3 linked regions of the Homo sapiens genome follow. The protein of the gene in region 3 interacts with the protein of the main gene of each other region in a pairwise test. Each region holds a gene or a part of one and is shown on either strand. Other genes may lie near its edges. The genes, in order: GAD2, MTERF3 and HIGD1C.

Region 1 (4,210 bases), on a different chromosome or scaffold from region 3:
CTTTTGTTTGGATCACGCATTTTTCGAGCTTTTATTTCCATATTCTCTTTCTCCACTTTGAGTTCTTTCTGCTGGTCTCTGCTGATGAATATTTGCTTCTATACCAGTGGTATAACCTCCGTGTCCAAATACATGCAACGTAAAATCTGATGATTTACACTTAAATCATGTTTCTGACATTATCAACTTCAGAAGCATGAACAATAGCAGTGGAAGGTGCTTTGGATTAGAATCATTCTAATAATGACTATTTTTTACATGATGAAAATAACTTTGCAATTTTGAAAATATCAGTAACTCCATCAAACAAAACATTTTATAGAAAAAAATAAAATAAAAATTGTAAACGAAAAAAGAGCTTTATTATTTTCGATGAGACAATACCTGTTTTAATTGCATATTTTAGAGTTGTTTGGCAATGCATCAAAATTTCCTCCAAATTTTGTGGTTGGTCTGCCAATTCCCAATTATATTCTTGGAGAAGCTCATTAGGATAATGGAAATCAATCACTTTGGTTGATCTATCGAAACTTTTCACCACATACTGAAGTAAAATGTTCATAACATCTTGCAGAAACGCCAAAGTGGGCCTTTCTCCATCACACGCCGGCAGCAGGTCTAAAGAATGAAATTAAAATGCCACATTTTAATTTTACTTTGAAAATATTCAAGGCAAGATCTTGATGAGGCAATAACATTTCTTTGAATTGAGAGATTTCATGTTAGATAAAGCTTTTGGAAAGGCAGAACATTTTTCTTTAAAAGGGAGACATTTTTCAAAGGTGAAGGGAATGAATGAGATAAATTATGATTTCTTCTCTTCCCCAAATTAATTACTGCATTTCAATTCATAACTTATATTGTTTGCCTTCTTTTTTTGAAGAGCGTGTACCTCCGTTTATCTAGTTCACAGGAGTTCGTCTTAAACGTGTTTCTCAGTAAACCATCTTACATGTTTACATAAATATTTCACGTCAGAAGTGTTTGTCTCGAATGCCTTCGGGCAAACCAAAGTGGAACAGGTGCATTAGGATCTCTGGTCTGATAGGAAGGCCCGCTGTTTCTAAAGTCAGTGTGTGTGTGTGTGTGTGTGTGTGTGTGTGTGTGTGAGAGAGAGAGAGAGAGCGTATGCATGTGTGTCTGCATGTGTGTGTGCGCGCGTACATTTGGGAGACGGTGTGTAAGTGCACGGGGGTAAAACTCGGCGCGCGGGTTTCATGTGAATGGAATCGTTCTCTTGTGCAATTGCAGCTACAAATCACTCTCGTGATCTAAAGACCTAAAAAAAATGCAATTCTGAATTCTCGGGCACGGTATTTGGAAACTGAGTCCCACCCGAGGCCCCAGCGGCCTAGGGAAGCCAGCCGTCATCGATTCAGTGAGCGCACGAGCGCCTGGATCGTCGGCCACCCGCCATCCCAAGGGCCGCGCTGGGGGAAGAGCGCCACGGCCTCAGAGCCCTCTTGGAGCTCCGAGGCCAGGTTCGGGGGCTTGGACCCAGCGGGCAGGTCCCGCATTTCTCGCTTTTATCTGAAGATTCTGGCAGGTCCCGCCTCCGCTGCCACCTCGACGCCCCTGTCCGGCTCTCAGCGCCGGACCCGCACCGGCCGCGGTGGGCGGGGCAGAGAGAGGGGCAGGGGCGCCCCGGGGCTCCCCGCTGAGTCTTTACCTGTTGCATGGAGAAACGCGTAGTTGACATCCACTTTGGAGCAGCTGCAGGGCTTCTGGTCGCAGGCGCAGGCGGCCTTCCGGGCGGCGGCCCGCGGGGGTTGGCTCCCGCCGCTCTCCGCCGGCTTCTCGGCGTCTCCGTAGAGCAGGGCTGGGTAAGGACACCGAACGCGGGCCTCGTCAATCCTCCGCCGGGCCCGGCTCCCTCGCTCCCGCCTACCCGCAGCCAGGAAACCCCGACTCCGCTGACTGGGATGCGGAGGTGAGAAGACTGCTTGGACCCCGCGGGCCGACCTTGGCCGCCCCGGTCCCTGGGCACTCACCGCACAGTTTGTTTCCGATGCCGCCCGTGAACTTCTGAGCCACTTGGCACCAGGCTCGCGCTGCAAGGAAGAATAGGCAGGCAGACAGCGAGGCAGAAAGAGAACAACAGACGGACGTGTGAAATTTCGTTCTATGTGAAAATCAATCAGTCCGGGGTCCTAGGAGGGGCCGCCTTCCTCCTGGGGGCCGCTCAGGACTCGGTGAGGCCGGCAGGTGCAGAAGGCAAGCGGGAGGCTGGCGGCCCGGGCCAGCCCTCATTTCCTTTATCTGTTTCCCGAGGAGAAGCCCACACCGCTGCCCTTCCAGGTGCCAATCGGCTCAGGCAAATTCCTCTCCCTGCCTACCTTGGACGAGTTTTCCTAAACACTGAAGCTATCCATTTTTTCGCAGACTGTCTTTCTAGATAAAGAAATCTCTCACCTTTCCCATTTTTTTTTTCTATCTTCACGGTCACTCCGTCCCACCCCAGGGTCCAGACACCCGGATCTTAGCAGCGCCCCAGGACCACGGAATTCCATGTCCCCGAGACACCGCGGTCTTTGGGGGGCTCTTCCAACCTTCTGTGGAACGGGCCTGAGACTATTTGGGCGTCTTCCCAGGGTACAAGAGGCTGTAGAGGTCTTGAGCTCTTGGGCCGTCAAGGACTTAGCCCAAAAGCAGGGAGAAGCGCCCGAAGAAGTTTCCTGTTGCAGGTGGAAAAACCTCCTTCGTCTTCTCCGTAGTTCCGCAAACCCCAGACCACCGCAAAACTCGCCCGCCGCAGGCCCCCGTTCTCCTTCCTACCTGTGCCGGGATTCTCGGAATCCCCAGAGCCATCTTCCGACCCGAAAGACCAAAAGCCAGAGCCCGGAGATGCCATCGGCTTTGGAGACTGGAGCAGGTCGCCTGCGAGTGCGAGCTGCGGGCGAGCTGCCTCGGGCTTGGCCCTGCGCGCGCGTGCGTGCCCGTGTGGCGGGAGGAGGGCACCGCGCGGGGACCGGCGGGGCCGAGCGGCGAGGGCGGGTGTCACGCAGGAACAGAAAACGTGCGTGTCTGTGCGTGTGTGTATGCGAGCTGGAGACAGGGTTTAGGGACGTGGCAACCCTTTGGAAGCCGGGGAGCTTTAAAAGAGACCGGGACTACCTAAGGGTCCTCGGAGCCCGGACTCAGGAAAGCGCGGAGAGCCCCAGAGCATTTGAGGGAAAGGGAGCCCAGTGGGGATGAATGAGGGGGCGGCGGAGGAAAAAAACACGAGAGAGGGAGGGAGCTGAGTCGTGAGGATGCGAGGCAGACCATGCACGCCAGCTGGAGTCAGAGTGAGGGGGTGGGAGGCGTGCCAGCGCGTCCTCGGGCGAGCCAGAGGCGGGAAGTGCGGGCGGCCGCTGTCCCGGGTGCTGCCACAGCCGCTGCGCGCCAGCGTCAGCGAGGGGCAGACTGGGGAGACCTCGGCGAGGCGGGAAGCGTGGCCCAGAGGAGTTTTCTGTGTGCATCGATTGGGGTTTTGTTTGAGGTCTGGCTCCAGCTGAGGGGAAGGAAGCGGGGTTCCCGCGCCGTTTTCCTCCAAGCAGGTGCTGAGGTCACTGCGACCTCGAGAGCTCGCGCCCCGGGCGGGCATCAGGCGCCGTTCACGAGCCTGGGGAGGGGACGGCGGGGGAAGGGCTCCTACCCGCTGATGGGCTCATTTCAGCGCCTTGGTAGAACCTGACGCCTGCCTGCTGAACCGCGCCGTACCCGGGGGCGCACCGTTCCTGCGTAGCCAAGGGCTAGATCGCGGGACCCACCGTCCAGGCTCTGAGTGACGGCTGGGGAGAATGACTGCTGATTGAGGCAATTAAAATCCACGCTGGAGTCTACTGAGGACCTCGGGCTGGGGAAAAAAAAATAAAACGAATGGAAACTTCTTGGAAGAGAATGAGGCAGAGCGGCCAGAGTCGGCAGGATTGATGGCGGGTGGGGGATGGAATCAGGGCATTTGGTGACCTTGGCCCGCGGAGGCGTGGAAGCGCCCGCTGCTTGCGTGTAAGGGGGATCTGTGTGCGCCTGGGAGGGGAGAACAGGGTTTCCAACTAAGCAATCTCGGCTTTACAAATCCGAGTAGGAAAGAAGGCATCGCCTGCAGGGCCCTCGTTTTAAGGGGCTTCAAACCAATGCCCCCCCTCGCCCCCAGAGAATCTTCGCGGTAGCGGGTGACCCGGAAGCGCGAGATTGGTTCTCTCTGAGGCGTATTAGGAGGCGGTTT
Region 2 (3,649 bases), on a different chromosome or scaffold from region 3:
TATTGGTGTCTCTCTGTAGGACGTATTTCTAGAAGTGGAAATGCTAGGTCAAAGGGTGTGTTCATCTGTAACTTCAATAGATATTGCCAAATTGTCCTTCATAGGGGTTGTTTTCCAGTTTATACTCTCCCCAACAGTGTACAGAAGTGCCAGCTTCCCTGTTATCCTTACAGATACAGTGCTATCACACTTTGCTTTCAGTTGATTGTATAGATAAAAAGAGTACTTTATTTGTTGGTTGGAGCATCAGATGTTGAAACATGGAATGTTGTTTGGAGCATCTTTTCATATGTTGAATTTCTGTTTACATTTCCTTTTCTGTAATATATCCTTTGCTATTTTTTAATCAGGCTTTTTTCTTTTTCGGTAAACGTTCTTTTATATATGAAGAAAATTAGTTCTGTCTCTGAGACATGTTGCAGATATTTTTCCTAGATTGTCACTTGTCTTTTGACTTCATTTATAGTGGGGTGTTTTTGTTTTGTTTTGTTTTGCCATGCATTTAAAATTTTTATATACTTAAACGTATAAATATTTTAACTATTTTTAAAGGAGTAATAGTCATGTGATTATAAAGTAATATAAGTTTTGGTATATAGTATAAAAATACCATAGGCTTTAGATGTAGGCATGCCTGAGTTCACATCTTAGTTTTGTCAGTAATTAGGTGATGATCTCAGACAAGTTATTTAACTTCCCTGAATCCATGTTTCCTCATGGAAAATTCACTTGGCTCACAAGTTTTTTTGTTTTTCTGGTTAGAATTAAACAAAATAATATCCTGATATATTTTAGACATTTAGTAAAACCATCTTTTACTATGTTTTAGATTTTTTAAAAATGTTATTTTATAGTCAAACTTTCTATATTTTACTAACTTACATAGTTTGATCTTCAGAAACTTAGCAGGAAAATCTCTCAGTTGACAAAATACATATTGAAAGACTGTAGTAAAAATCATTTATAAAAATACATGCTCAGGCCAGGCATGGTCACTCAAGTGTAATCCCAGCACTTTGGGAGGCTGAGGTGGGCGGATCACTTGAAGTCAGGAGTTCGAGACTAGCCTGGTCAACATGGTGAAACCCCGTCTCTACTAAAAATACAAAAATTAGCTGGGTCTAGTGGTGTGTGCCTGTAATCCCAGCTACTTGGGAGGCTGAGGCAGGAGAGTCACTTGAACCTGGGAGGCGGAGGTTGCATTGAGCCCAGATCATGCCACTGCACTCCAGCCTGGGCAACAGAGCGGGACTCTTCCTGAAAAGAAAAGAATAGAAGAGGGGAGGGGAGGGGCTCAGTAAATATACTAACCTAAAAAATGCCTCTCTCAGTTATAACCATTATTTCCTTAATTTTCTTAATTTGTGTTATTTTCTTAATTTGTGTTTTTCTGTTCTTATCAAAAAAAAAAAAATCTTAAGCAGAAGCTATTTCATTCTTTCTTACCAAGTAATAAACCAGATTAATTGAAAAGAGAATCTAAAGGTTGGTGCAAAAGTAATCATGTTTTTGCTATTGAAAGTAATGGCAAAAACCGCAACTAATACCTATTAGTGGATTTCAGAATTATTTTCTGTTTTTAAGTATAAGTGGAAACCATCTAGAGTTGGGTGAATGCTTGTTTTGTTTTAAACGTGTTTTTGCCATTGTTACAGAATGCTTTTATTTAGTTAGTAATTTAGGGTGTGGGAGCCTTTTTAAAAACAGCTGTTACTTTGGGAAGTAGCATGAGACTCCATCTCAAAAAAAAAGAATGTAAGTGTTTATCACATGCGTATGTATTTATGTTTCTCTAGGGTGGCTTATCTGCATTCAAAAAATTTCAGTAAAGCAGATGTTGCACAGATGGTCAGAAAAGCACCATTTTTGCTGAACTTTTCAGTGGAAAGACTGGATAACAGATTGGGATTTTTTCAGAAAGAACTTGAACTTAGTGTGAAGAAGGTAAAGAAAAGGAGAGAATTTGTTTATTTCCATGTCAGGTACATTTTAATAGCTGATAGATCTCATGTTCCCAGCAGATGCCTGGCCCATGTGAATCATATAAATTCCTGGTATTTTTTGTACAAAAATGAATTATCCTGCTAGTTTAAACATAGAGCTCCATCATTTTATAATACTTAATCAAACTGGTTCCTTCAGTTTTTGTTTTCTTTTTTTCCAAACAGTATTAATCTTATCTATTCCTGGGGTTCCTATCATTTTTCTGATTGGGTCATATTTTAAGTTTTAACTTTGTATCTTAATAATGCCTTAATTTTCCAAACTAGTTAAAGATGCACGTATAGTAATACTAGATTGTTTTGTTTGCAACCACAGACTAGAGATCTGGTAGTTCGTCTCCCAAGGCTGCTAACTGGAAGTCTGGAACCCGTGAAAGAAAATATGAAGGTAGGACAACTTTAGGCTTTTTGAGAAATCAGTTTCTTTAAGTGTTAAAATCCTCTGAAGAGAACAGATTTTGCTATTGTCATGTAAAAGAAAACTAGACTTTAAAATAAGTTATTTCTAAAAAGAGAAATAGGAAATTATCTTTAACAAATGTCTAGCAAGCAGTTTGTTTCAGTTAATATTTTCACGTTGAGCAGGTATTAACCTGAGTAAATCACCTTGCAGACATTGATACCCACAATCCTAAAGCATTAGATAGGGATATAAGTGGTACCCTGAAACTGCTTCTGTTGCCCAGTGTGGGCGTCTGACGTCTTTGTTACCTGGGCAGTGTTACCAGTCTACGAAAGTACTCCTGTTGGCCAGCATGACAGTCTGTGTATGTCTCAGGGAGTTTTGGAGGCTGGATCCAAAAGACTTCTGTGAAAAGAGTAGCAGCCAGCACATTGTTCTCCTTTGCACCTGTCCCAATTGCCAGCTCTCATTCTGTCACAGAATGTACCAGACACTCTTTACTGTCCTTCCTCCAAGAGAATAAGATAAAGCCAAGAGCAGCTGACTAGTTAGTATATAAAGCTGTAGTAGTATTTGAAATATTATATAAGGGCTGTTTTCTGAGGTGAACAGTTCAGTCATTGAAGAAATCTTTTTATTGAGCTCCTGCCCAAGCGCCATGCTGAGGAGACAGCTTCTCCTCCCAAGGAGCTTACAATCTAGTGGGGGATCAAATCCAGAGTGATGGGGGCAGTTACTTGGTGGGGGCACACAGGACACTATGAAAGCAAGTAGAGGACCCGGCCTGTGTTTGGTTGTTTAGTTCCTCATCTCTGCTTGGAATGTTGACATGTCGTTTTTCAGACAACACATATGTGGGTGTACTTGGGAGCAAAAGCTCAAAAAGCATTTTGAAGATCCTGCTGCTGAAGGATCTGTTTGGTGTTGGGCCCATGCCTCTGACCTGCAGCGCTCCCATGTCACTCATTCCCTCTTGTAATTATGGTTGCCCCTTTGGTGAGCTTCATGACCATCATGGTGTAGCTCTTTCTCAGCAGAGGGGTTTGAAATTCTGGTGACCCCAGGAGCCGGAAGCTGTAATTCCTTGAAGGCACTGGCATAGCTGTCTCCAAATTTTAAAATGTTATTTTAAGTTTAAAAGAATCATGGTCAGGCGTGGTGGCTCATGCCTGTAACCCTGGCATGGGAGGCCGAGGTGGGCAGATCACTTGAGGTCAGGAGTTTGAGACCAGCCTGGCCAACA
Region 3 (3,649 bases):
TGGAGTGGTACAATGGCGTGATCTCAGCTCACTGCAACCTCCGCTTCCCAGGTTCAAGCGATTCTCCTGCCTCAGCCTCCCAAGTAGCTGGGATTACAGGCACCACCACCATGCCCAGCTAATTTTTGTATTTTTAGTACAGACAGCGTTTCGCCATGTTGGCCAGGCCGGTCTTGAACTCCTGACCTCAGGTGGTCTGCCTGCCTTGGCCTCCTAAAGTGCTGGGATTACAGGCATGAGCCACTGTGCCTGGCCTTACGTATGAGATTTCTACATGGCACAGGTAGGTGGTCTCCAAACTTTCCAGATTTATCTAAGTAAATATGTTGAGCATGCCTCTCAAAATCTGGATTTATTTATTTACTTATTTTATTTTTTTGAGATGGGGTCTCTCTGTCTTGCCCAGGCTGGAGTGCAGTGGGGTGATCTTGGCTCACTGCAGCCTCCGCCTCCCAGATTCAAGCAATTCTCCTGTCTCAGCCCCCCTAGTAGCTGGGACTATAGGTGTGCGCCACCACACCCAGCTAATTTTGTATTTTTAGTAGAGATGGGGTTTCACCATGTAGGCCAGGCTGGTCTCGAACTCCTGACCTCAGGTGATCCACCCGCCTCTGCCTCCCAAAGTGCTAGGATTATAGGCGTGAGCCACCGTGCCCAGCTAAACTGTGCATTTATTTATAAACAATATAAATGCGGTGCGTGGTGGGGGCTCATGCCTGTAATCCCACCACGTTGGAAGGCCAAGGGAGGAGGATCACTTGAGGCCAGGAGTTAGAGACCAGCCTAGTCAAAATAGCGAGACCCATTTCTACAAAAAAATAAAAAAATTAGGGTCAGGCGTGGTGGCTCATGCCTGTAATCCCAGCACTTTGGGAGGCCAAGGCGGGTGGATCACTTGAGGTCAGGAGTTTGAGACCAGCCTGACCAACATGGCGAAACCCCATCTCTACTAAAAATACAAAAATTAGCCAGGTGTGGTGACGGGTGCCTGTAATCCCAGCTACTCAGGAGGCAAAGTGAGGAGAATCACTTGAACCTGGGAGGTGGAGGTTGCAGTGAGCTGAGATTGCACTCCAGCCTGGGCAACAGAGTGAGACTCCATCTCAAAACAAACAAAAATTAGCTGGGCATGGTGGCACACGCCTGTAGTCCCAGCTGCTAGGGAAGCTGAGGTGGGAGGATCACTTGAGCCTAGGAGTTTGAGGTTGCTGTGAACCGTGATCACGCCACTGCACGCCAGCCGGATGACAGAGCAAGACCCTGTCTCCCCCCACACACACACAAAAAAAGAATCAGTGTAACTGGAGTGGAGATTACGGTAAGTTGGGAGGCAGTAAGTCTGACAAGTTCTCATCTGTCTTCTTGGGTTCTAGTTCATCCTTGCAGATTCCAGTTTATCTTTCCTTCCCAACTGCTGCCTTACTGACTTCAGTCCCCAGTATTAGAAACATAAGCAACAGCTTCGCATAAACTGTTTAGCCAACTCCAAAAATGTTTTAAGGTCATATCTCTGTAATAAATCCCTTCTCCTCCTCCTCCTCATTCTCCTCCTCCTCCTCCTCCTCCTCCTTCTTCTTCTTATTATTTGAGACAATGCCTCGCTCTGTGGCCAAGGCTGGAGTGCAGTGGCGTGAGCAAGGCTCATGCAGCCTCGACCTCCTGGGCTCAAGCCATCCTCTCATCTCAGCCTCCCGAGTAGCTGGGACCACAGGTGCATGCAGCTTGCCTGGCTAACTTTTTAATTTTTTGTAGAGATAGGGTATTCGCCATGTTGCCCAGAATGGTCTCAAACTCCTGGGCTCAAGTGATTCTCCTGCCTTGGACTCCCAATACACCCAGCCTAAATCACTTTTTATATATCACTACTGGTAGTTTTGCTTGTCTGAATCTTGACTGATACAGTTTGGAATTAGAAGTACTTCCAGAGGAACAGAACCAGCATGATAGGTTCTCTGAAATGGTTCTGGGTTATCCGGAATTGGTTCTCTGATCCGTTTAGATTTAAAGGCATTAATGGCCATGTTTTCAGTTATAAGGAGGATGCTAACAGTCCATGGCATTTAGTAGCAAAATAGTTTCTTAAATTATCACCCATTAGGCCAGGCATGGTGGCTTATACCTGTCATCCCAGCACTTTGGGAAGCTGAGGTGGGAGTTCGCTTGAGGTCAGGAGTTCGAGACCAGCTTGGGCAATGAAGTGAGACCCTCATTTCTACAAAAAATAAAGGCCAGGTCTGGTAGCTCATGCCCGTAATCCCAGCACTTTGAGAGGCTGAGGCAAGTGGACCATTTGAGCCCAGGAATTTGAGACTTGCCTGGGCAACATAGGGAGATCCCACCTCTACGAAAAAATTTTAAAATTAGCCAGACATGATGATGCATACCTGTAGTCCCAGCTCTGTGGGAATGAGGCAGGCAGGAGGATCTCTTAAGCCCAGAAGAGGCAGGAGGATATCTTGAGCCCAGGAGTTTGAGGCTGCAGTGAGCCATGATTGCACCACTGCACTCCAGCCTGAGTGACAGAGCAAGACCCTATTTCTCTTTCTTTTTTTTTTTTTTGAGACTGAGTCTTGCTCCATCACCCAAGCTGAAGTGCAGTGGTGTGATCTTGGCCTACTGCAACCTCTGCCTCCTGGGTTCAAGTGATTCTACCTCAGCCTCCCGAGTAGCAGGGATTACAGGCACATGCCACCATGCCTGGCTAATTTTTGGATTTTTAGCAGAGATGGGGGTTTCACCATGTTGGCCAGGCTGTTCTCGAACTCCTGACCTCAAATGATCTACCCACCTTGGCCTCCCGAATCCTGTGAGTGGCTCATCACAATACAAATTCAATCCCCAACCTCACAAAGTCACTTATGTTAAACCATTGCTTTAGAAGGAGTGGGACACTGAAAATTGGGAAGATGTGGCAGACATAAATGAAATGGGTCTTTGAACACTTAAATTTTAGTGAGACTCCTTTGCCAATAGAAGCAGTCCTTCCATCCTGTCTGAGAATGACTGAAACTTGGACCAAAAGGTAATCTCCACTAAATGAAATTGAAATGCCAGAACTTCCTTGGTAGAGTAATGGTTCTCAACCAGGGGCAGTTTTGTTCCCCAGGGAAATATGGTAATGTCTGGAGATGTTTTTGGTTGTCACAACTGAGGGTGTGGAGGTGGGAAGGAGTTCTACTGGCATCTCTTGGGTGGAGACCAGGGATGCTGTTAGGCATCTTGCAATGCATGGGACAATCCTCCACAACAAAGAAGAATCCAGCCCAAAATGTCAGTAGTGCTGAGGTTCAGAAACTGCCACAGAGGTAGGTATCCAAAGGATTAGGGAGATTGGTATGTTAGAGTAAATTTATCCTGCTTACCCACTCCCTAAACTAAGGTTGTGAGAAAGACATTTGTCAGGGTAGCCCTGACAAGAGTCCTGTGGTGACTGTTCTCTGTATGCCAGAAATGACAGTGCAAACTGCTGGGCTCCCTAAATTCAATGGGGATGATGGGATCCTGAGGCTGTGGGGGTCAAGTGGTAGCATTTGATTGACAAAGACAAGGAAAGCATGATTGTTGTGATGGGCAGCAAAGCCTAAGTGGTCATCAGAATAGTCTAAGTAAGCCACAGAGATCTTTGGCATTGGCTAACTGATTATGGTAT

What was found.
Region 1: the proteins of HIGD1C (region 3) and GAD2 interact in binary tests that used the Homo sapiens proteins (3 or more experiments, as listed by UniProt).
Region 2: the proteins of HIGD1C (region 3) and MTERF3 interact in a two-hybrid assay, tested with the Homo sapiens proteins (one large-scale study listed by BioGRID and IntAct).

The regions. Positions count from the first base shown.
Region 1 is NC_000010.11:26,215,451-26,219,660, reverse strand, and holds the start of GAD2 (glutamate decarboxylase 2), read right to left. Parts: upstream 2,888-4,210; 5' UTR 2,852-2,887; coding exon 2,776-2,851; intron 2,052-2,775; coding exon 1,992-2,051; intron 1,820-1,991; coding exon 1,670-1,819; intron 619-1,669; coding exon 385-618; intron 1-384. UniProt on the Homo sapiens protein: Catalyzes the production of GABA.
Region 2 is NC_000008.11:96,244,602-96,248,250, reverse strand, and holds part of MTERF3 (transcription termination factor 3, mitochondrial isoform 1 precursor), read left to right. Parts: intron 1-1,796; coding exon 1,797-1,944; intron 1,945-2,319; coding exon 2,320-2,391; intron 2,392-3,649.
Region 3 is NC_000012.12:50,966,024-50,969,672, reverse strand, and holds part of HIGD1C (HIG1 domain family member 1C), read right to left. Parts: intron 1-3,649.